7 separate regions of the Homo sapiens genome follow, and regions 1, 2, 3, 4, 5 and 7 are each reported to be linked to region 6. The links are microRNA targets in miRTarBase. Many come from high-throughput screens and were not tested one by one. Region 6 holds a microRNA gene; each other region holds the end of a gene's coding sequence.

Region 1 (3,084 bases), not on the chromosome of region 6:
CTACCTCCTTCAATATCATACTAGTAATAGTATTTCTGGCCTTGGTTTAAAAAATATATATGTATATATATGCATACACCTTTTCTGTAATCCTTATGGCTTTTTCAAGTTTGTTTCTTTATATAGTAAAGAGGATAGTTTTTTTTCTAAGTCAGTTCTTATCTATAAACTGCTCCAAAACATTATTTTGATTGTCCTTCGCTGATGCTTTGTTGACTGCTTTTCTAGTTCCATTATTGTCCTTCCTAGACTCTAGATACCAGCCTGAATTATGATGTTTTTCAAGTGTGTCTACCTATATTATTATACAAGGGTCAGATTAAAGATATGCTGTAATAAAGCAGACAAATCTAAAATGTTAACAACATTATTCATGGAAACAAATGTTGCCCCAAAATTGATAATGACCAACACCACTTTGTTTAGTAATTTTAAATGGTTAAGTAACTACTAATAAAATTTAAAAGGCTATGTTTTATCTTTTTTCTCTCTAATCCCTCTGCCTTCCTGATATTCCTTCATTTCGTCACCAGGGTGTGAATCTATACAAAGTGATGGAAGCTGGTGACTTTATTTGCAAAGCTGTGAATAAAACCACAAACTCTAAAGTAGCACAAGCCTCCTTCAATGCTTGACTTGAATGGATTTATGACGTACCGTTGAGAAGATCAATTTCAGCTACAATACTCATCTGAAAATCATTAATGCCAACTTGCTCTGATATGTGAAGTAATGGACAAGAGTGGGAAAAAAGAGATCCTTTTCAAAAAGATTATAACTGGATAGATTAAGTCAACAAAATGCAATATCAGTCATCAGGTAAATTGCAAGCTGAGGATAAATAATAAAACTTGTCATAATTTTGAACTTGGAAAAAAGTTTCTTTTGCTCTCATAGAAATAACTTTTTAATTTAGTAGATGGGAAAATTGACTTCGTATTTCCCCAAGTATCAAATACTGTGTTAATACTTAATCAAGCAGGCTTAACACTGTGTACATATTGTCAGTAGTTTATGAGCTCCTGCATAGTATGCAGAGTGTGTGGCCTCAATATTATACATTATGCCTCTGGATCTCAACTACTCATTTGCCAAGTCAGTTATGTTATGGACCAAAAGCCAAATCTCCATCTGACCCTACATAATTTTAGCAATAGAACTTTTATATTTCAAGTATGGCTAACATCTGTTAACTATTTCAGTGACTTTATCTGGTTCCAAGAGGCTGTGGCCAATGGCAAGATGCCATATCCTGGAAACATATTACGACCTCCCATGTTTGTTACATGCATCCAGTTTACCACACTTTACCTGTCATCAGTTATAGTAAAAACCAGCATGGTGTTACTCAACTATTGAGAAATTGTAAGCTATTTTTTTTTGTCCTGATGTCTAAATTGCAGTGATAAGAATAGGTTGATACATGTATCATAATCTACCTTTATAATTTTCAGATCACTTTCAAATTGCCCAAGGAAATATTGTGATCCTAAGAATATTAAGATAATTTTAGGTTAATGAAATACCCATTTTCCTTTTATTCATGGTGCTTTGCTTACCCACATTATTTTTTGGTGTATTTTTTAGTGGTTATTTTAGAAGTTGAAGTGGCTGAAATTTTGTCTATTGTCTTAGAATTGATTGCCAGAAATTGCAAGATGTAATATATCAAAGTCAGGGATGAGGAGCAGGAGGACTATTCAAGATAAACTTCTGTAACCTATGCATATTTTATGGGGGCAGTATTATTACAAATGGATCTGAAATGTCAGTTCTAGTATTTAGAGAGACTTCTCTAATAATACCGGGTGATATTATCTTTGAGTAAATTTGAATATAAATTGAAACATAAAAATGAGTATTGTGAACTTTCTAGGAAATATTCATTAAAACCATTGAAATAAAAATAAATTCAAGAAAGTAAGAAGTACTGATTATGTTGCATGGTTCTGGAGCAGGAATACTGAGAGCAATTCTCTGTTTTGGGCTTAATGTTTGTGGGTTGGGGGAAATGCAGGGAGCAGACAAAAATCAAAGCTGGTTATGAATCTTTTTCAGTTACATCTCCCTGTGCATCTCTCTTCACGAAGCACATGACCCTGCACACTGGCAGTAATGGGACACCTGCAATTAGCGTGTACAACTGGATACGTACCCCATATTCTGAGGAGACTGACTTCCTATCTCTTACAATGCTATGCTGTTCCTAATTTCAGATATTTGGAAAAGCATCTCTTGTTACAAACTGCCCATAGTAACAACTAAGGGGATGATGGGAAAGCATTGCTGTTTTGAAATGAAAACCATGGACTTTGAAAGACAGAGCAAGTAGTCAGAAACTCCAAGTACAGTCTACAGCACAGTTACATAGCATCCATATCAGTGTACTGAGTCACTTCCATGAATACCTTGATGCTACTGAATCACATTTAGTATGAGAAAGCTTGTTGTAGGTATTTGGTATCCTTTCTCCACACAAACCATCTAAATCCCTTTGATAGTTTAAGAGAGTTTCTTTTCTGGTTTTATTTTCTCCACCTTATTTATCTTTTGGCCTCTTCCTTCTTATGTTTGACTGCAGACTCACAAATGCACAGTTGCCTTCATTCTTGCAACTCAACATGTGGTCCAAGACCAGCAGGATAATCCCCTGGGACCTTTTGAGAAATAGAATCTGAGCCTTCACTCCATACCCATTGCATCACAGTTTGCATTTTAAACAAGATCCTTACGTGACTCATATGCAGATTAACTTTGAGAGGCACTTGCCTATTTGATACCTCCTCTTGGGTATCCAACAGGCATCTCGAGCTTCATATATATTCAAAATTCTTGTACCATTTTTCACTTTGTGCACTGTAGTCTACCCCACTGTCTTCTCTGTTTTTGGAACAAGGCACACTCAGATCCATCTCAGGTCCTTTACCTTAGTTTTTTTCTGTGTCTGTTTCCCTGGCTCTTTCCCTGGGCATGTTTGGCTCCCTCTTGTCATTGAGGTCTCAGCATAAATTTTACCTCCTTAATGAATCTTCCTGGACAACTCAGTTTAAAGTAAGTCCTGTTACATTCTCTCACATCAACTCA
Region 2 (3,084 bases), not on the chromosome of region 6:
CATTTCACAGTACTTTTTATTTAACCCTATCGTGCTAGGGCACTATGCAATATACAGCTATTTCATTTTCCTTTTGTCTCTGTTTCCCAGGTGGTCTTCGAGGGATAGCACGAGGTGGTCTGACAGGACTAACACTTACCAGCCTCTATGCACTATATAATAACTGGGAGCACATGAAAGGCTCCTTGCTCCAACAGTCACTCTGAAGATTTTGCCAACTCATGAATGGAGGACACTTCAGTAGTCATCTAGATCCTTTTATAAGACAGTTTGGAGTTATTCTCTCTCTTCTACCTACAATTAGTTTGAAAAATTGGAGATTTTGATTTGCTGTGATGAAAATCCTGGATGGCTGACCAAGACTGGCACTTGTTCCAGCCATTAGTGAGTTGAAGCCAAAGCCCTTTGGTGACTCACTGAGTACCATGGTTCTGTTCTCCTCTGGAGATCTTGCACGTATCTGTTTTCCTCCCCCATGAACTAGAAAACCACTTACTCCCAGAATTCAGGTCGTGCTTGTTAGTACTATATCACCAAGTCCATTCATTTAATGATCCAAAACTGTAATGTTGCACTGTATTCCAAATAAAGGGTAAAAACAGAACCAAAGTTATAACTCCAACACACAAACATAGTGGTTGTCTCAATTTAAAAGTATCTACCTGGGTATAAAGTGAAAGGTACCCTTGGCATTTTTTGTCCCAGTGGGCAAAACAACATCTTCGTGTTTGTGTTAAAATGAGCTACTTGGTGGCCGGGTGTGGTGGCTCACGCCTGTAATCCCTGTACTTTGGGAGGCCAAGGCAGGTGGATCACCTGAGGTCAGGAGTTTGAAAATCAGCCTGGCCAATATGGTGAAACCTTGTCTCTACTAAAAATACAAAAATCAGCTGGGTGTGGTGGGTGTGCACCTGTAACCCCAGCTACTCAGGAGGTTGAGGCTGGAGAATCGCTTGAACCCAGGAGGCGGAGGTTGCAGTGAGCCCAGATCATGCCACTGCACTCCAGCCCAGGTGACAGAGTGAGACTCCATTTCAAAAAAAGAAATGAGCTACTGGTGGCATTCACCAATAGAGCTGGTACTAAACCACCTCAAGGTATTTCAGGTCAGCCGTTAGACTAGTATGCTAGAACAATCTTTCCAACAATCCTGCTTCATTCCATACATATTAACTCACACCTTACTAGGAATAATTAAGAGCTAGGTTTTTTTTTTTTTTTTTTTTGAGACAGGGTCTCTGTTCCCCAGGCTGGAGTGCGGTGGTACAATCTCAGCGCACTGCTGAGATTACTTGAACACCTCCCGGGTTCAAGTAATTCTGCCTCAGTCTCCCAAGTAGCTGGGATTACAGGCACTTGCCACCATGCCCAGCTAATTTTTGTATTTTTAGTAGAGGCGGGGTTTACTATGTTGGTCAGGGTGGTCTCGAACTCCTGACCTCAGGTGATCCACCTGCCTTAGCCTCCCAGAGTGCTGGGATTACAGGCGTGAGCGACCGTGCCTGGCCAAGAGCTAGATGTTTTTCAAGGAAGCCTTGGGAAAACTAAAGGACATGAGGCCAAATTGTTTAATTTCTGAGTTTGTTTTCTCATCCACCATATGAAGTTAATCATGTATAATTGCACTACAGGTTATACACATAAATATTACTGTATTAAATACCTGGTGGCTATATGATTGGAGAAAGTAAACTAGGGCCTCTTCGGATGCATCTAGTAAGAGGAATCCAGTAGAAAGGCACTGAATCTTGGCTGAAGTCCCATAGGTTTTTTTTTAATAGATGTGAATAGTTTTTATAAAAGACTGAAAATGGAGGTTAATATACCTATTGTTTGCTAATTTTTCATAAAATACACTGATGTTATTTTTATGTTCAAGCTGTTTCTCAGCTGGATTACTAACCAAAAGTTACCACGTTATGTGGTACCACACCACACTTTGTGACAAATAGTTTTAAAAATAACACGCAACAACTATGGCTGTTATGCTTTTAATGGAAGCAGATACAAAATTCATCAATGCAAAAGAATGTTTTACATACTCATTAACATAGTGATTAATGTAAATTATATTTTGACTTGTAAAATACAGTGTGTTTGGCCTCAAGAAACTACAGAGCTGCAACTCAAGATAACTGGAAAGGCTCCTTACATTGTTTTTGCCCACCACCTTTATATAATACTCCTAAATGATATCTGGGGAGGGAATTAAAAAATAATACAAAGCTCTTTTCAGCTGTGGTTCAAAGAACTCTAGTGAAGCTGTATGGCAATGACATTTTGGGACCATGAAGTTTCCCCAGAAGTATTTCCGGTAAGAGGCAGTTAAGAAGCTTAATAGTTTCAAAGTCTGGAAAGCAGCAAAGATATCTTAGAGAAAACATTATAAACCCCACTTCTCTCCTACACAGACATTTTAAAGCATGGACGTAACTTTAAGGAGACTGAGAAAACATCAGTAGTTTTCACAAAGCTTCAATGAACACCCCAAGGCACAAGTGTTGAAAACGGCCTGTTCACTAAAACGTCACTTTTGGAGGTACAGGTATGCTGTGCTTGCAGTGAGAGGATGACTTTATCCCTACTTAAAAGCACCAGGTGTCAAGCTCAGCTTCCATTTACACAGGATGCACCAATTATCCCTATGATAGTGACTGTTTCAAGTACTATACTACATTTCCAACATGTCTTTTGCCTATTTGCTTAGTCGGTACTGGGGTTCTTTTAAGCCCCGTAGGTCTGTAGAATATTTTAAAAGGCTAGAATTACCTCAAAAATAGTCTTGAAATAATACTGAGTCCTTCTAAAGAGCTCACTGGATATTTTAATAACATTTACAGAAAGACAAAATTTGCAGTAGCTGAGTTTAAGTGAAGAATAATGTAGAACTAACGTGGGCTAAAATGTTTCATAATTAATGTCAAAAATTGCCAAGATTATTAATATATATTTTGGTAATCACTATTGACCAGGTTAATTTTTTTGTGCAAAATACACTATGTATTAATAGAACAGGAAAATAATTATTTCAGACCACTAACAAAAGAAAACCCACAGCAAGAGAAGCATCTGTAGGGCAATTAA
Region 3 (3,084 bases), not on the chromosome of region 6:
AATTAGGGGAATTTTGTAAAAGCAGTCTGTATCAGTTTAAAGATGTGAATAATACAAGTATATTCTTGTACTTATAACAGGAACGAAGAGTGGAGAAGAAAGCTAACAAATTAGCATTTAAACTGGAGAAAAGAAGGCAAGAAAAAGAGCTGCTGAACTTGAAGAAGAATGTTGAGGGTCTAAAGCTATAGACAGTGGAGCATACAGGGCAAGGCACTTTATTAGGGGCTCCTCATCTTTGGTTATTGACTAGAAACTTCAGAAAGACAAAACTGTTTGCCATTTTTACTGGCAGATAAGAGGAAAATACAATATTTGTATTATTTTTATACTAGTAAGTGTCCCCTGCCAACCATCTTGTAAATATTGTAATACTTTAATTTTTAATATTATAAGCTTACATTTGCTCTGAAGTAAATGACTTCATGAATGTGAAATGTTTGATAAATTAAAGGAAAATATCTTCATAACGTGAATGGAATTGGTGTATTCATTTATTTGTATGGTTGTCATAGTTGTTTTTTGCAGATGTTTTCAAATATTTCTTTGAATCCTCTCCACGCCTTTTCAGGAATTACATGGTTTAATTTGCTGTAAATAGAAAAGTGGCCTGGTTAAACTCAATTTTGAAATGCTGACTTTATTCTGTTTAGTGTAAGATGAGTTTTTCTGAGAAGGTTCCACTGTTAGGAAGCTAAGTTTTCCCTTGCTGTATACAAAGGACTGTTTCAAAAGTGTGGCAAAACTGAATATTAAGGTTCTTAAGATTCATATTTCCTGTTATATTACTGGATGACTTGCTTTTGGGATTTAGGAACAGTGAAGGCAGGAAACAGAATAGTCAAGGAAATAAGAAAACTTATTTGGCTTCAGTGAGTCCCTAGTTCAAAATCAGAAATATTTATTTCAGTTTAAACTGGGGAGTTTGTCTTTTCAACATCAGTTAATGCTTGGAACCATTCATACTTGATTAAAATACATCGTTGAAAACTTTCCCTGTTTTTGATGAGTTGATTTTTGTTTTAACTGATTTAAACTTTTTCAAGGTTTAGGCAATGACATCATCACAATTGTTGATTATTTGGTAAACTATGACTTCTTGCAACAGATTAGTGGTCCTGGTTTATGTTCTTGACTAGTATGATGTTATCTGGACTGGGCTGTAAAAATCTGTGAACACTGTTGCTCTGAGTTAGGAACAGAATGGCTGGGGCAGAACCATTTTTGGCAGGTGAGCTGCACTTGATATCTAAATTATTAGAAAATGCCTTCATCTGTAATCATTCATTTATGGCTTTTCCAAAGCTGGTAGGTATTAGCTTGTTCTACCATGTGTGATCCGTTTAAATCTAAGTATTGTAGGATTTTTAAAGAGTTGTCAAAACTGATGGCATTAGGTATTCTACCAACATTGGCTAGAAAAAAATCTTGACTGAAGAGCTTGTCATTGCAGAAGTAGGATACTGGAGAGAATGTATTTAAATGCCAACCTGTGAAGTAAAGGGTCAGATGATGGTTTATGTCAATATTGAGAATGTAAGTACTAAAAGGATTGGCCATTTATTTTGATAGCTGTCTCAACTGAAGATTCTCAAAAACAGCAAGAGTCTTAATAGGCATTGGATGTTTCTTTGTCATGTTACTCAAATTCTGTGTTATGAGGTGCTAACTTCACTGTGTTTAAATCCATATATTATATATTTTGCAATTAAGAGAAAAAGACTAGGCCATGAGTCTTGATGAAGCATATTGTGATTTAGGCAGGTTATACTCCAAACTTAAATATTTTAATTTTATTCTGAAGAACAAATTCATGATACTTTAAATGAATTTTCTGATATCTTGGTTCTCTAAAAATCTATAAATGATGATTGGGAACTGAACATAAAAGCTCCATGCTAAATGTTGGGAGCCCAAGAGATCAGAGGGTTTTTGCCTTCAGGAGCCACATGGTCTGAGGAGGCAGGATAGGTGCAGCGAAATGTAACTGGCAATACTATCGTGGTAAGTACCACTTGTAATTAGAATCTTGGTACTTGCTGTTCCCCCAGAAGTGCTTTCACTGCAGACAGACCTTCCTCATGGTTGGTGCTCAGCTGTAACCTTCACTATAGGCTATTCCCTGAGCTTGTATTTAAAAATCCTGCACGCATCCCTCCCCTGCATCCTTGACCCTCCTTCCCTGGTTTATGTTCTCCACAACATCTGTTGACGCAGAGGACTGTTTTTCAGTCTCCTCTCGCAGGACAAACCCTGAAGGCACAGTGTTTTATTTATTGCTTTATCCTTAGGTCTGGAAGGGTGCCTGGCATTCAGTATACAGTCACAAAGTAGTGTATGAATGAATGGATAGATGGGAAAGATTTCAGAAAAGAATTAAACATAGAACCATAGCAGGGCCTAGAATCACTGGGGTTAGGGAGGAGAGAAAGGCCTAAGAGATCCAGGCAGGGGGCAAAATCTTGAAGAATTTGTATCTTAAACTTTTTTTTTTTGCCAAGACAGGTCTTGCTCTGGCGCCCGAGCTGGAGCGCAGTAGTGCGATCTCATCTCACTGCAACCTCCAACTCCCGGGTTCAGGCGATTCCCCTGCCTCAGCCTCCCGAGTAGCTGGGATTACAGGTGTGCACCACCATGCCCAGCTAATTTTTGTATTCTTAGTAGAGACAGGGTTTCGCCATGTTGGCCAGGCTGGTCTCAAAACTCTTGACCTTATGATCCGCCCGCCTCGGCCTCCCAAAGTGCTGGGATTACAGGCATGAGCCGCCAACACCCGGCCCACCTATTTTGTTTAAGCACTGCCCGTGAATGGTGTAAAACCACTTGGATATCATAGTACCACAGATGCTCCTTGACTCGTGGTGGGATTATGCCCTGATAAGCCCACCATAAGCTGAAAACATGGTAAGCCAAAAATGCATTTACTACACCTAACCTACTGAACATCATAGCTCAGCCTAGCCTACCTTAAACTTGCTCAGAATACTTTCCATTAGCCCACAGTTGTGCAAAACCATCTGGCAATACAGCACGCTGTAGAGTTATCAATTTGCCCTCGTGATCACATGGCTGACTGGGAGCAGT
Region 4 (3,084 bases), not on the chromosome of region 6:
ATTTTTATAGTTCATAAAGAAAAATCTTAGTTATGAGAGACAAATCAATGCTGTCAGATCACGCACAAATATACTCCTGGAAGGAGCCGGGGGAGATCAGGGCACCCCAGAGGGTGCTGCAGAAGAACAGGGGTGGGGGCAGGGGAGAGACAAATTGCATTGTGTTCAAAATTTGTTCTGGTGCCATCTGTACAGTATGGAGATGTCGCTCACTGACCCTTCACTCAAGACACTAGACAAATTTTGGTAAAGCATGAACATTTATATTTAATTTACATTTTGACAATTTGCACATAAATAACATTGTAAACCAGTATGTAAACATAAGATAGTTTGTTGTTCTAGCAAAGTAAAAAGCCAGTAACTTTGGTCAGTTTTAACTTTGAGTAGAGGAAAAAATAAAACCACTGTTGATTGTGGGCTCAACATTCACATGTAAGAGGCAGAAAAGAGAAGGATGGATGGTGAGAGAAGCAAGAAGTCTTTATAAAAATTCTCACTATGGGAAAGCACAAAAGGAGAAAAAGAACAAACGAGTAGTTGGGAATCAAAAGTATTTGGTCTAATGTCAACGTGATGCTTTGGTTTACCTTCAGTTAAGGACTGTGTTTATCAAACACTGATACATAAAAAGCTGTCAGTCTTGGAAGTTACAGAAGACCAGTAAGGCTCTTGGGTTTCCCTGGATTATTCGAAATTTGTTCTCTTCTACAGGTGAACATTAGTTGATGTGAACAAAATGTCAAATATAATTATAAAATAGATTGGAGTAATGTATCAGTATTTAGTAAGGAGGAAAACAGAAAAATTGCAGCGGTAAAGTCAGTTTTTTATTTCTGTGACTTGGGTGTGACCACATAATCATAAAGTGGCAAAAAAAAAATAGAGCTGTCTTAGATGGTCCTTAATACTAAAAAATGATGTATCTCTTCCTCCCTGGTTGTTTTGTGGTCCCCACCACTGCACCAAGGTTTTAGGGTCTCTTACAGTAGGCAAGGGTGCCCAATCATACCGACGTGATTGTGAGGTCACCAAGTATTAAGCAAAGTCTCAGAAAGGAGTGTTCTTTTTTTTTTTTTTTTTTTTTTGCCCTTAGAAAAAGTAGATCTTTTACATGGCTTGGCTCACAATTTAAGTGGTTATAAATATATATACATATGATATAGTGGTATAAATAGATTTATAAATATACATCATTTTTTGCTACACTTTGAACACCAACATGTAATCTTTGGGCTTAGCAGAATAAAAGATAGAATAACACAAAGTCTATCTTGCTGGAGCACATTTACTCGGTTTCTCCTCTAGAGAAGCAAATCATTAGATAAGACATCATTTCCTGCACTACTGGACACACTCAATGAGGTAACTGTTGTTGAACAACTTTGCAATGCCCTTTCATCTTCCATTAAATTAACCATAAAATGTAAAAACACAAATACTGAGGAAAATCTGAGTTTTACAGAAAAAATACAATTGATGTGTTGGGGATAGGAATGTTCATTACCCGCTTTTACCCCAAGATGACTAGAATACCCGTTTTTTGTTGTTTGTGTGTTTGTTTTTAAAGTGTGGCCTGAGCCTATCTACCTCGAATCCTTCCTGGTAGAGCACCATGTTTGTGCAATTTTGACATTAAAAAAAAAAAAAAAAAAAAAGCAACAAAAACCAACAACAAAACACCACCCAGACTCAAGCCCCCAAATCGCACACACACAAAGCCACCTATGCTTTGGGGAAATTTTCGCAGTGGTTTTAAAACATGGCATTTTTTTCTTCTTCACATTTTCTGATAATACAATGGATGCAAAAGTCATGTGGCCGCTCTGAATGGCCACAGGACTCGGTGGGGAGGGCAGGGCGGTGGGAGGATTCTGCTCTTTTGGAGGGAGAGACAGGTTGGTAAAGCCTTCCTGTCACCCTTCCGGTAAAATTGTGGCTGGGGGAAAAACATGAACTATCAACAAAAATATACAAGATTCCCTTTCTTGTTTCTTCTACTTAAGTTATTCTTGGGTAATCCTGCACACATACCCCCAAGTTATGTACAATGCTGTTCAAATGATAGGATCCCAGGAATGAACACATCAACTGTCCAACATTGGCAATTACCCAAACCTCATTTTCAAACCATTATTAGAGAGAGAGGTTGACTGAAGTCATATATTTGTTTAACTAAATCTTAGGTACTTATACAGATGTGCAGAAATTATCTACAAAGAATGGCCACAAGACAAAAATACATTTATACTCAAATTACAAGGAATCTTTCCAGTCATTGTAAACTTTTTTAATTATTGCTTTCTGAATGATAAATTGTATAATAAATTATGAAGGATTATCATTGAAAAAATAATTATGACTAGGTAATAGTCTTAGTAATGGGAAGGCTATGCAAACATGTCCACACAAATATTCAAAATACACAGGGGCAAATATATAGACACAGGTGTAAATAAGTATATATAATATGTATACAGATATATATATATATATATATATGGCCTTTGCCTTGTTCATGCCCTGAGATTTCAGTAACTTTGGAGTTCCTTCTTTAATTCCAGAGGTGAGGGGAAACCATTTGCTGTCGAGAGAGCTTTGCAGAGCTGGGATTATGTACAAGCCACTTCCTACAGGCACCCTGACTCACCAAGTCATAACTTAAGAAACAAAATAAGTGTTTTCTGAAAATCTTAAGGATCCATTGGTTCAACTGTTTCTTGTTTGACCTTTACAGGTACCAGAGGTAGTGGGTTGCTGGGAGGCAACTTCATGAGGGGTAGATCTGATGACTCATAAAGGCTGCACCCTGAGGAGAGGAGTCCATTCCCCATGTTTCTTTGCAAAGACACTTTCAGGCCAGTTTCTTCTTTCTCTTTTCTGACCACGGCCAGAATTTCCTTCTCCACTACAGAGATCACACTGATGTCATCCTCCACGTCCTCGAGCCGGTCAGCATTGTCACTGATGTCAAACTTCTCGATTTCTTCATTGATTCGGGTCAGATCTTCCAAGGGCAGCCCAGGCGCCGGGGCCGCAGCGCAGTTCCCTTTCAGGTGAACCTTGAGGCTACAGAGATGGATG
Region 5 (3,084 bases), not on the chromosome of region 6:
GAAATTGAATTTTGTTTGGAAAAAAATTCTTATTAAATGTTGTAGGGTTTCATTTGTGTTTATTTATTGTAAGGGTTCAGATTATTTGAAGTCCACATAGAAGAGTGGATTACTGTATGTCTTGTTTTAACAAGAAACAGAGACAAAAGATTTTTTGTATCTATCAGATGTAATGGTATCCTCCTCAGCTATGTGTTTTTCTGTTTTTGTTACAGGAATAGTGTGCACCCTCAATTCAGAAAATAAAGTGGATCTCACCAATCCACAGTACACAGTGGTAGTAGAAATCATCAAAGCTGTCTGTTGCCTGAGTGTTGTGAAAGATTACATGTTGTTTAGAAAATACAATCTCCAGGAGGTGGTGAAGAGCCCTAAGGATCCGTCACAGCTTAACTCAAAGCAGGGAAATGGGAAAGAAGCTAAACTGGAATCTGCGGACAAATCAGACCAAAACAACACAGCAGAAGGAAAAAATAACCAGCAGGTACCAGAGAATACTGAGGAGCTGGGGCAGACAAAACCAACGTCTAATCCACAGGTGGTAAATGAGGGAGGAGCCAAACCTGAACTTGCAAGTCAAGCCACAGAAGGATCCAAGTCAAATGAAAATGACTTCTCATAGGAAGTCATTTGGTGTTGGAGGTGGGTTTCTCACCTGGGGCTCTACGAGATGTTGCTGGGGCTCCACCTTAAATTGTGACTAAAAACAGTTTTTTATTTGTGTGCTGCATTATGCTGTTCTCACAGTAGTGAGCAATGATTGCGCAGCCCTGTTAACAGTTTTTTTAGGGATCTTTCAGCCTTTATGGTATTACGTAGAGGCAGACCCATGTGCTGCTGTTGCAAAGAGGGGAGGATAGGAGGGGGATGTTGGCCTCTCCCAGGCTCCTCTTCTGCAGTGCCAGCTGACTTAAGGGAGTGAACTACCTGTGAAGTAGAAAATCAGAGGGAAGTTTTCATTCTAAGGAAGGAGTTTTTACATGCCACAGCTCAGCTGTCTGCCTGCCACTTTGTTGTAAACATTGCAAAAATGTGGATCATGTAGGTTAGAAGTGAATTGTTTAGTGAAGTTTTTGTACTTTTGTGATTTTCTTGTTTATGTCTGTTTTTTTTTTTTTTTTTTAACATTTGTGTGTAATATAGCTGACAGTCCAGTGTCGCAATTTTGGAAGGCAAGATGTGAGAGAGACGAGAACCATTTTAGGCATAGAACTACAGACATTTCTGAAAAGGTTGGTGATGAAGAACTTCAGTCTTCTGAGTATACTTCAGTATACTAGTGCAACAAGGGACACAAAGAAATTCTGTCTTAATAAAGAAAGCTACTTCTCAAGGGTATTATGTGGACTCAGTCCAAGCTCTCCTGTCCCATTGTGCATTGTCTGTGACATGCAACTTACAAAACTAGCAATTGTAACAATAAATCACAGCCACTTGACAAGAAAGGATATTCATTATTTTCAAATGGCTTTTGGACTATCAAAAACAGTAAGGCTTTTGTTCAGAAATCACCTTTAGTCAAAAGGTTTAAGAAGCAAATTATTTAGTAGCAGAACTTATCTCAGGAAAGGAAAATATGCATGGTTGGTGAGAATCTAATAACATTAAAATGCTGGGGCAAGATGCAGTACAAAGTTGAAGAGACTTTATTCTCAATAAGTTGATTTACTGATGATATGTCATATGATGCAAAAAAGGTTTTGTGTCATTAACTGAAAAGTAGCAGCTTCTCTATCCAGGATGATGAGTCAACAGGTTTCACTAATATTTGTCATGCTGTAGCATTTGTAAGATTTGTAAATGATGAAATTCAAAGAAAACTTTTTCTATTGCTAGGAGCCTGCCAGAACAAAGGCCAATATATAATGTTGTGACATCATATCTGATAACCAGAGGTCTGGTATCTACACTCCTGGTGCCCCATCAGTGGTTGTCTCCATAAGTCATTTTGCGTTATTAAAAAAAAAAAAAGAAATCCTGATGTTGACATTATAGCACACTGCTTTCTCCACAGAGATGCTGATATCAAAAACTTGAAGATACAGTGAAGTTCTGAATAATGTTACAAAACTGGTTACCTGTATCAAAGACCCATTTATGCAAAAATGTTAAAAAAAAAAAAAAACACCCAAAACAAAAACCTGGACAGACAGCACATAAACCTCCTGCACCATACAGACATCCAGTGGCTTCTCAGAGGAAGCGTTCTCTACAGGATATTTGAATTGAAAGGTGAATTGCCAGAGTACTTACAATAAAACAGCCAGCTTTTGCTGAGTGCTTTGGAAATGAAAAATGACTACAGAAAGTAGCCTATTTTGCAGACGTTTTTCATCACATGAACAAATGGACAAGTCTCTGAAAGGTTCTGGGGAAAAAAATTTTTCTTAAAGCGACAAGACTCTTAGATCTAAAAGGAAACTGACTTGCCACCTTGCCAGAGGAATTCTTGAAATGTTTCTGCAGCCACTTGGCCTTGAAAATAAAGGGTGCAACTCTCAAATCTTGTTCTAACCCGGCTGGAGGAACCACAAGACCCAATGAAATAGCATTTTCTCTCCTTTTCCCAGCACTAGTATATAACCTATGAGGAACCCTTGTCTCTGAATCTGCTCAGCTTGAAATTTTGTCTCTGAAGGAAGAGAATGAACTCAGCCCTAGTCTGACAGTCCTAGATTTCTGTGAAATAAGAGTATTCTTCAACTTAGTGCTCACACTCACATACCATGAGGGTTCTCTGCAGGGGTTTAGGGGTTTCCTGAATTTGAAAGTTTTTTCAAGGCCTCTTTTTGGGTAAAACAATTGAAAAGGCAGACACCAACAAAGTCTGCAAAATTAACTGTCCAGATTAAGAATATTAAGGAGCTGTAAAATTAGCTTGTAGAAATGGACTTATCCTTAAGTTTTAAAAAGTTAGGAAATCCTAAAAATGTTAGGCTTCCTGCACAAGTGGCTATGTTCATTTAATGGCTAGTGAACATGGGAATGTATTTTTATCCTCCTAGCTGGTGGTTCTGTTTGGTAAACCAGACTAGAATGATTTGAGAGGGGCAAAGAGAATAGGCAGGACCTTCCTTCTATAGC
Region 6 (3,084 bases):
AGGGGGATATTGATTTCTTATTCTGCCAGAGATTTAAGCAGGCATGCGAGGAATCTGCACCATGGTTGGCAAAAAGAGACCCGTTGCCTCCTGTAACCAGACACTCAGGCTTTCCAGGAGCCCAGGGAGCAAGCCGAGAAGAAAGGGGGCAGTGTGGTCTAGGAAAATTCAACTTGTCGCTGATTTGTGCCTGATGCCTGCTGTCCGTCAGCAGCCTCCCTTACAATCTTTTTTTCTCTCTCTCCTTTTTTTTTCCTTGCCTTCTCCTTCTTCACTGAAGCCTAGGGGAGCCAGTAAAGATTAAATGTGCTTCTCAAAGGCAGCCACTTCATGCTGCTATGTCGAAAGGGCCATTATTATTATTATATTTTAATGGTAAAAGAGAAAAGGAGAGAGGTTGAGCGAGCGAGAGAGAAGCTAGGTGTGATGATGACAGACTAGCTTTTCTGAGAGGAAAAGGAAAAGGGAAGGGAGAGAAAAAGGAGAGCCTCTGAGCTCAACGGAGGATTGTGCCTGAGAAGAACCCACAGAGGTGAGAAAAAAGTTGTCTTGAAGGTGGGGGTGGGGGGGCTGCTAAACAGACACTGTACAGAGGGAGAAGAGACATAATTTAGCTGTGTTGCTAGTATGATTCCATTTTTAAAGGAGGGGAGGGGGAGAGTCTAGAGCTCTAACTGTTTTTAGTTGCATATGGAAATATCTAAAAAAATATTTAGCATTTTTACTAAGTGCGTTGAGGCCTCTCCAGTGTCCTCCTGGCTGTGGCTGCTTTGTCATTCTCTTTGACTAGCCAGCCATCTACCTTGCTCAGGCCTGGAATAAAAGAAGAACAAGAAGAAGAAAGAAATGAAATGAAAAACAGAAAGAAAAAGGAGAAGAAACATTTGTAAAAGGGTCATCTTCCCATCTGCCTCCCCTCCTTTTCCTTTCATTTTTGGTGGCGGCACAGGAAAGCCCCACTTCCAGTCTGATGAGGAAAGCGACAATCTATCAGGTACAGAACCAGGGGCTGTCTGCGAAGATGGAGGGGAATTATGCTTCGGATTCCTCTGAAATATTGGCCAAAGGCTTCAAAGAATCCGCAGCGGGAGGTGCGGGGGGAATGTCTCTCCCCAGCCCGCACCCAGCCCTTCCCACTTCGTGTCTACCAAATGACAGCCTGGTGCTCGCTCTTGGTGATTTGGCCTTGACTTCAGCCAAGCAGCTGATGCAGACGAAGCCTCCGTTTGCAGGACTGGCAAAGTGCACGCTAAAGAAAGAAGGAAGAAATTTTTCAAAAAGCAGCTCTGGGGAGGTTTCATACTCCCCCCCCCCCCCCGCCTTTTTTTAATTTTTAAGTGAATATTTTCCAAATTTGATCAGTTCCAGCCCCTCCCTCCACTCCCACCCAACTGCCCTTTTTTCTCTCGTCAAAGCATAAGCTACAGAGTTACAGTCTCGAGATTTGGTGTATCGCTTCCTGCCCCCGCCTCCCCTCCCCGCCCCCGTTCTCCGTCCTCTATTGAAACACCTCGCCCAGCCTAGCGCACTGAGAGCTCTCATTTTCCCCCCTTGCTCGGGATGGTGCCACAGGAGGCTGTGCGGGCCCCGCTCCGCTTCGAATGGGTGAGTTCAGAACGCTATTCGTCTTTACACTTCTATAGCCTCCGAATCCTACTTCTTGGTCTTCTCCTTTGAAAACCCGATTTCTATGATTTTTGCATGCGGCATACTTGCCCTGGGGGAAAGAGATGCCTCCTATTTTCTCTTCAGTCATTTGTGCTAGTCGTAAATTAAAGCTTTGAAAAGACACTAAATCCTTATTGTAGACTATGGTTTTAAAAACTTGGGCATTTCTGAGTCTGTGCATATTATTTTCCGTTTTAGTGAACTATTTTGCCCAAATCTTGAAAGAGTTTTCTCTGATGTACTCGTGATCGTATGTGTATGTGCGTGATTGTATATGCGCCCCCAGATACTGCGTATGTGTGTATATATGTATTAGGCTTAAACGGAATCTCAATTTTGTGAAGGAAAGGAGCTTAGAGAAGAAATACCATACCACCTGTTTGTTGCATCTTAGTTATGAACCTCGAACAGAAATTGCCTGTCATTCTTGTTTTGCTTTGCTTTGTCTCAAGAAAGAAAACATTGTTGCGCTCCTCTCAGTCCCTGAGACCCTAACTTGTGATGTTTACCGTTTAAATCCACGGGTTAGGCTCTTGGGAGCTGCGAGTCGTGCTTTTGCATCCTGGAAATTTGGTGGAATTTTATTCTTTAAAGCAAAAACAAAAGAAAAGAAAGTTTGTCTGAGGTGATTGAGTATACCTCTGAGGTTTTCATTGTTAGATGGGATCAGGTGACCAGAGAGTGGCAGCTCCTGGATTTCTGTTAAAGTAGGTATATATTTTGCTTTAATAGCGTGTTGGCTGCTATGTGTATGTATGCATGTTATTGATGCCTGAGGCTTGTGGAACTCATCTGCCTGGTCTATTCCTTGAGAGCAACACGCAGTAGTATACGAGCGTAACAAGAACAGCTCAGTACCTGGTGCTTGACCTCAGAACATCTCAGCTGAAGTCCCAGCATGCCCCATGTCTCCAACTTTCAAACTCCACAGTTAATCTTAAAATTGTGCCCAATTAAAATGGGCATGTGAATATATTATATATTCAGTGTCCACACATGTGTATCATGGATGGCTAGACAGTGAACATACAGACGCAGATAAAGGCAAACTAATAGTTTGGAGTAAAATATTAATAGGTTAAAATTCTATTCTTGCAATTCCACACAAAGGATGGAAGTTATGGTATTAATAAAAATTAAGTTTGTATGACTTTGCAAGATTTTTTAAAAATAAAAGGAGGGATACCACCTCCTTGCTTGGTATCTTTTACAAAATGTTATACTTTATGGATATAAAGGTGATAAAGATTGGAAATAAATCTTCTAAATATGTAAAATGAAAGCAACAGCAACAGCAAACACAATTATCGTATTCTTTGGGAGTAACAAATACTGGTTTTCATTTTAAAACTAAGGAAAATTTTATCAGTACTTAAATTCAATCCAAAAAAGGTTTTATAACACCCAAACTGTACA
Region 7 (3,084 bases), not on the chromosome of region 6:
TAGTGTTTATTTAGTGGACTTTGGTAAAGCCCTTCATACATATTAATCTCTTCACAGTACACATTTAATGATGGTCCAGTATTCTCAAAAAAAAAAAAAAAAGCCTACTTTAAAGACTAATCAATAAATTAAACAAAACAAAACCCACACAATGTTCCCCCACCCCCCAAAGCTAGCAGTTGTGAGTTGTATTTATATTGAAACCTAATGTTTTAAAAATAGTTCTGGTTCTCCAACCACCCCATCCCACCCCGGGTATGCAGCAATAGTAATCAATTATTTTATTCTACCCTCCCAAAAGATTATTAATCCAGTGTTCTTTAGCTTTTTAAAATATAAATTGGGAAAGTGTTATTAATAAGCTTTTTTAAAAGGCATATTCTTCTATAACAAGAATGGCATATAAACCAATCAATAAAAGTATTTGACAAGACATTAAGTTACCACAGGCACTGGCTGTTGTTTCAAGTTGGGATCTCTATCCCAATATCTTACATTCATAGCATTATTGAGGTAGTTAAAATACTGAAAATTGGACTCCAGGTTGCTGGGTTCTGAATGTGAATGTGAAAGATATATTCTCTTTTGAGCCTACTTTCCCCCAAATAATTCAAGTTTTCTTGAGGTAAGAACTACCAAAATCCAATTAGCAGCCTTCTTTAAAAAGGAAAAGTGATGATACTTTCAGAAAACAATTTTCATGCTTAAAAACTGCCATGAGTGAGTGTTCTTACCTGAGTGGTTTTTCATTTTATCTACCAGACTAATAAATCCACATCATGCCCTATGTACTCTAAATATAAAAGTTATTTTCTTTTTAAGGAAAGGATATTTCTCTAAGCATTGATACTGACAGAAGCTACCCACCCACATTCATCCCCGGGAGCCATCTGGATCAGTCCATCACTGTGTTGAGCCCCTTCCCTTCCTGACAAAGGCCATTGGCTTGATTACTGAGACTCCTGCTGCATACCCACAACATCTTTATAGTAAGTTTGTCTTCGATGCATATTGTGGCAGTCACGTATCTGCCATGCAGTTTTCCCTTCTATTCAAGTGCTATCTTAAAAAAAACAAAAAGACACACCTTACTAATTTTTAAACCAGAAAGCTTCCCTCCACCAAATCTTTCTTCTCCCACAGAAAGGAGCACAATGTATACAGTTTATCAGTTATTACAATGACTTTTTAACTTTTTAAGGTTATTCCTCCAAAATGCTTTACCCCCAAACTGCCCTTGCTGTAATGACAATTATTGCTGTTTGCAGTTAATACTGGTACAGTGAAATGTCCCAGGGCAGTTGTAGGGTCAATCCAATGAAAGTAGCTACTGAAATTTAGTCATCAGTTACCTTTGCCTGCTTAGACTGACTAGAGCTGGATTCAAAGGTTGCTTAAAAAACCTGTCTTCCACATAACAAAGTGCTGCTCTAGCACAACCTGAGAACTACCCTGGCCACAGTCCCTTCCAAAATAAACCTACAGGACTTTATTCTAGCACTGACCTCTTACAGTTATGCCATCCCTTGAAATAACTTTTTAAGAATGTCGATTCTGAGTATAAATCATGGATTGCACTGAGATATGCAAAACCTACATATGTATTATGAATCACAGGAACTACCACTTCATTCTGAGCTATATTATGTTCTCATTTGAAAACACACCCTAGCAAGCGTATTTTAACCTATGTTATAAAGGTAGTTCACACTATAACATTCCCAAGGCATGTTGCATTACAGTTAAGTGTTTCCAAGTAGTACAAATTCCCTGAGTTAAATGTATTTTAATTCTAAAAATTTGATGTTGATCACTTAGGGAAAAAAAGAAAAATTATGACCATGATTTAAAAAATAAGATCTTCTCCACCCTTAATTTTAGTATATAAACCCAGATACCTACACTATTTGTGAGACGAAGTTATATAGAATCATCTAAAAAAATTTTTTTTACTGCAGATTGGTATAGCATAACAATTCATGAGTTTAAACTTAGTCAAAAATTCATGTGTAGAACAAAAATAAAAAATTGCAGAATAAAAAAAACCTTTTCAAAAATTAATACTGTAACTTTCCTTCATAAAAGACTGTTTGGCAAGTCCATAGATGAGATAAACATTTAGTCTTTGACTTAGAAGCCAACATTAGGCCCAGATGCTACCACAGGTCAAATCTCAAAATGGCAAATTGAAGTCTGTCCAAATTTTCTGTTGTACTGAATATTTTTGAAATATTTGGACCATCAGCCAGGACTTGAACATTTTTGTCATACAGGGATTTGTTGTAACAGAATTTGACATACTGTTAATTTGCTTAGTCTCCCAGGATTCATGGTGCATTAAAAAGGATATTCAGTCTTCCTGGTGCTGGTACCTGAAGAGTTCTGATGTCATTTAGATCCCTTTCCTTTTGAACAGAAGTTTACAAAACGCTTACCCATAGCTTCATGTCACAAAGCAGTCTGGGTCGGTTATCAGCTTCACAAATAATCACCTTTCAAAACATGGAGTAATACAAGGGTAATGTTCATTTATCTGATAACTCCGGTTGTAAGAAACACTCAGACAGGGCTTAACTTCTACTGGTATTGCCAGTGACATCCCAACACCAGTCTGCATGTGCCCAAGGCCCTGAACACTAGTTTGGAAGCCAGCAGGACATGTCTGTAGTGTGTAAGATGAGGTGTGTGTGGTCGATACAATCTGCTGACAGCTTGGTTGTTCTGACGTAGGATGGCGATACTGCAGTGAGGTCTGATGTGTCTGATGGAGATACTGAGGTTGCTGAAAGTGAACTGGCCGTGATGGCTGGGAGGCTGTCTGGAATACACTTAGTTGCGCTGACTGAGGTCCTGCTTGCCCTCTCTGTTTGTTTGCTTCTTTCACATCATTATCATGAGCGCTGAAACGTGGAGAGAAAGGAAACTATTAAAAATACTGCTTGAGAAGAAATCTGCAAGAAAATCATGCCCCATCCCCAACTCAACAGCTTCTTCCACCACCACTACCCAGGTAGCAGTCACTGCACCATAATTCCAACAACAGTGAGACCTCGCTTGTGTTCTTCTAAAGCTATTTCCCTTGAT

What was found. Region 6 holds the annotated microRNA hsa-miR-125b-5p (UCCCUGAGACCCUAACUUGUGA, at 2,149-2,170, shown strand). A microRNA usually pairs through its seed, bases 2 to 8, with sites in the 3' UTR of a target mRNA and lowers its output. Matches are read on the target gene's strand: a 7mer-m8 pairs with bases 2 to 8, a 7mer-A1 pairs with bases 2 to 7 and ends in A, and an 8mer does both.
Region 1: miRTarBase lists HMGCLL1 as a target of hsa-miR-125b-5p. Seed matches in the 3' UTR shown: 7mer-A1 at 1,675-1,681.
Region 2: miRTarBase lists TIMM23 as a target of hsa-miR-125b-5p. The part of its 3' UTR that is shown has no 7-base or 8-base seed match.
Region 3: miRTarBase lists LTV1 as a target of hsa-miR-125b-5p. The part of its 3' UTR that is shown has no 7-base or 8-base seed match.
Region 4: miRTarBase lists PRDM1 as a target of hsa-miR-125b-5p. Seed matches in the 3' UTR shown: 7mer-m8 at 2,522-2,528.
Region 5: the mRNA of THUMPD1 is a reported target of hsa-miR-125b-5p. The part of its 3' UTR that is shown has no 7-base or 8-base seed match.
Region 7: the mRNA of CCNJ is a reported target of hsa-miR-125b-5p. Seed matches in the 3' UTR shown: 8mer at 1,768-1,775.

What each region holds. Positions count from the first base shown.
Region 1 is chr6:55,433,213-55,436,296 of GRCh38, reverse strand. HMGCLL1 (3-hydroxy-3-methylglutaryl-CoA lyase like 1) reads left to right here. Exons shown (of 9, transcript NM_001042406.2): 9 at 534-1,924. The coding sequence ends at 635. Among named protein-coding and RNA genes, the nearest start is that of GFRAL, 110 kb to the right of the region's middle.
Region 2 is chr10:46,003,113-46,006,196 of GRCh38, forward strand. TIMM23 (translocase of inner mitochondrial membrane 23) reads left to right here. Exons shown (of 7, transcript NM_006327.4): 7 at 91-630. The coding sequence ends at 206. NCOA4 (nuclear receptor coactivator 4) reads right to left here. Exons shown (of 10, transcript NM_001145263.2): 10 at 1,976-3,084. Among named protein-coding and RNA genes, the nearest start is that of SNORA74C-1, 20 kb to the left of the region's middle.
Region 3 is chr6:143,863,337-143,866,420 of GRCh38, forward strand. LTV1 (LTV1 ribosome biogenesis factor) reads left to right here. Exons shown (of 11, transcript NM_032860.5): 11 at 81-476. The coding sequence ends at 191. ZC2HC1B (zinc finger C2HC-type containing 1B) reads left to right here and starts at 1,138. Exons shown (of 8, transcript NM_001013623.3): 1 at 1,138-1,231. The coding sequence starts at 1,204.
Region 4 is chr6:106,107,096-106,110,179 of GRCh38, reverse strand. PRDM1 (PR/SET domain 1) reads right to left here. Exons shown (of 7, transcript NM_001198.4): 7 at 242-3,084. The coding sequence ends at 2,694. Among named protein-coding and RNA genes, the nearest start is that of PRDM1, 22 kb to the right of the region's middle.
Region 5 is chr16:20,734,418-20,737,501 of GRCh38, reverse strand. THUMPD1 (THUMP domain 1 NAT10 acetyltransferase adaptor) reads left to right here. Exons shown (of 4, transcript NM_017736.5): 4 at 216-3,084. The coding sequence ends at 622. It also overlaps a transcript of ACSM3 not described here. Among named protein-coding and RNA genes, the nearest start is that of THUMPD1, 5.9 kb to the left of the region's middle.
Region 6 is chr11:122,098,895-122,101,978 of GRCh38, reverse strand. MIR125B1 (microRNA 125b-1) reads left to right here and starts at 2,135; the gene lies at 2,135-2,222. All of the region lies in intron 4 of MIR100HG (mir-100-let-7a-2-mir-125b-1 cluster host gene), which reads left to right.
Region 7 is chr10:96,057,646-96,060,729 of GRCh38, reverse strand. It overlaps CCNJ (cyclin J), which reads right to left. Exons shown (of 6, transcript NM_001134375.2): 6 at 1-2,900. The coding sequence ends at 2,489. The region is part of intron 2 of ENTPD1-AS1 (ENTPD1 antisense RNA 1); the gene reads left to right. Among named protein-coding and RNA genes, the nearest start is that of MIR3157, 5.2 kb to the left of the region's middle.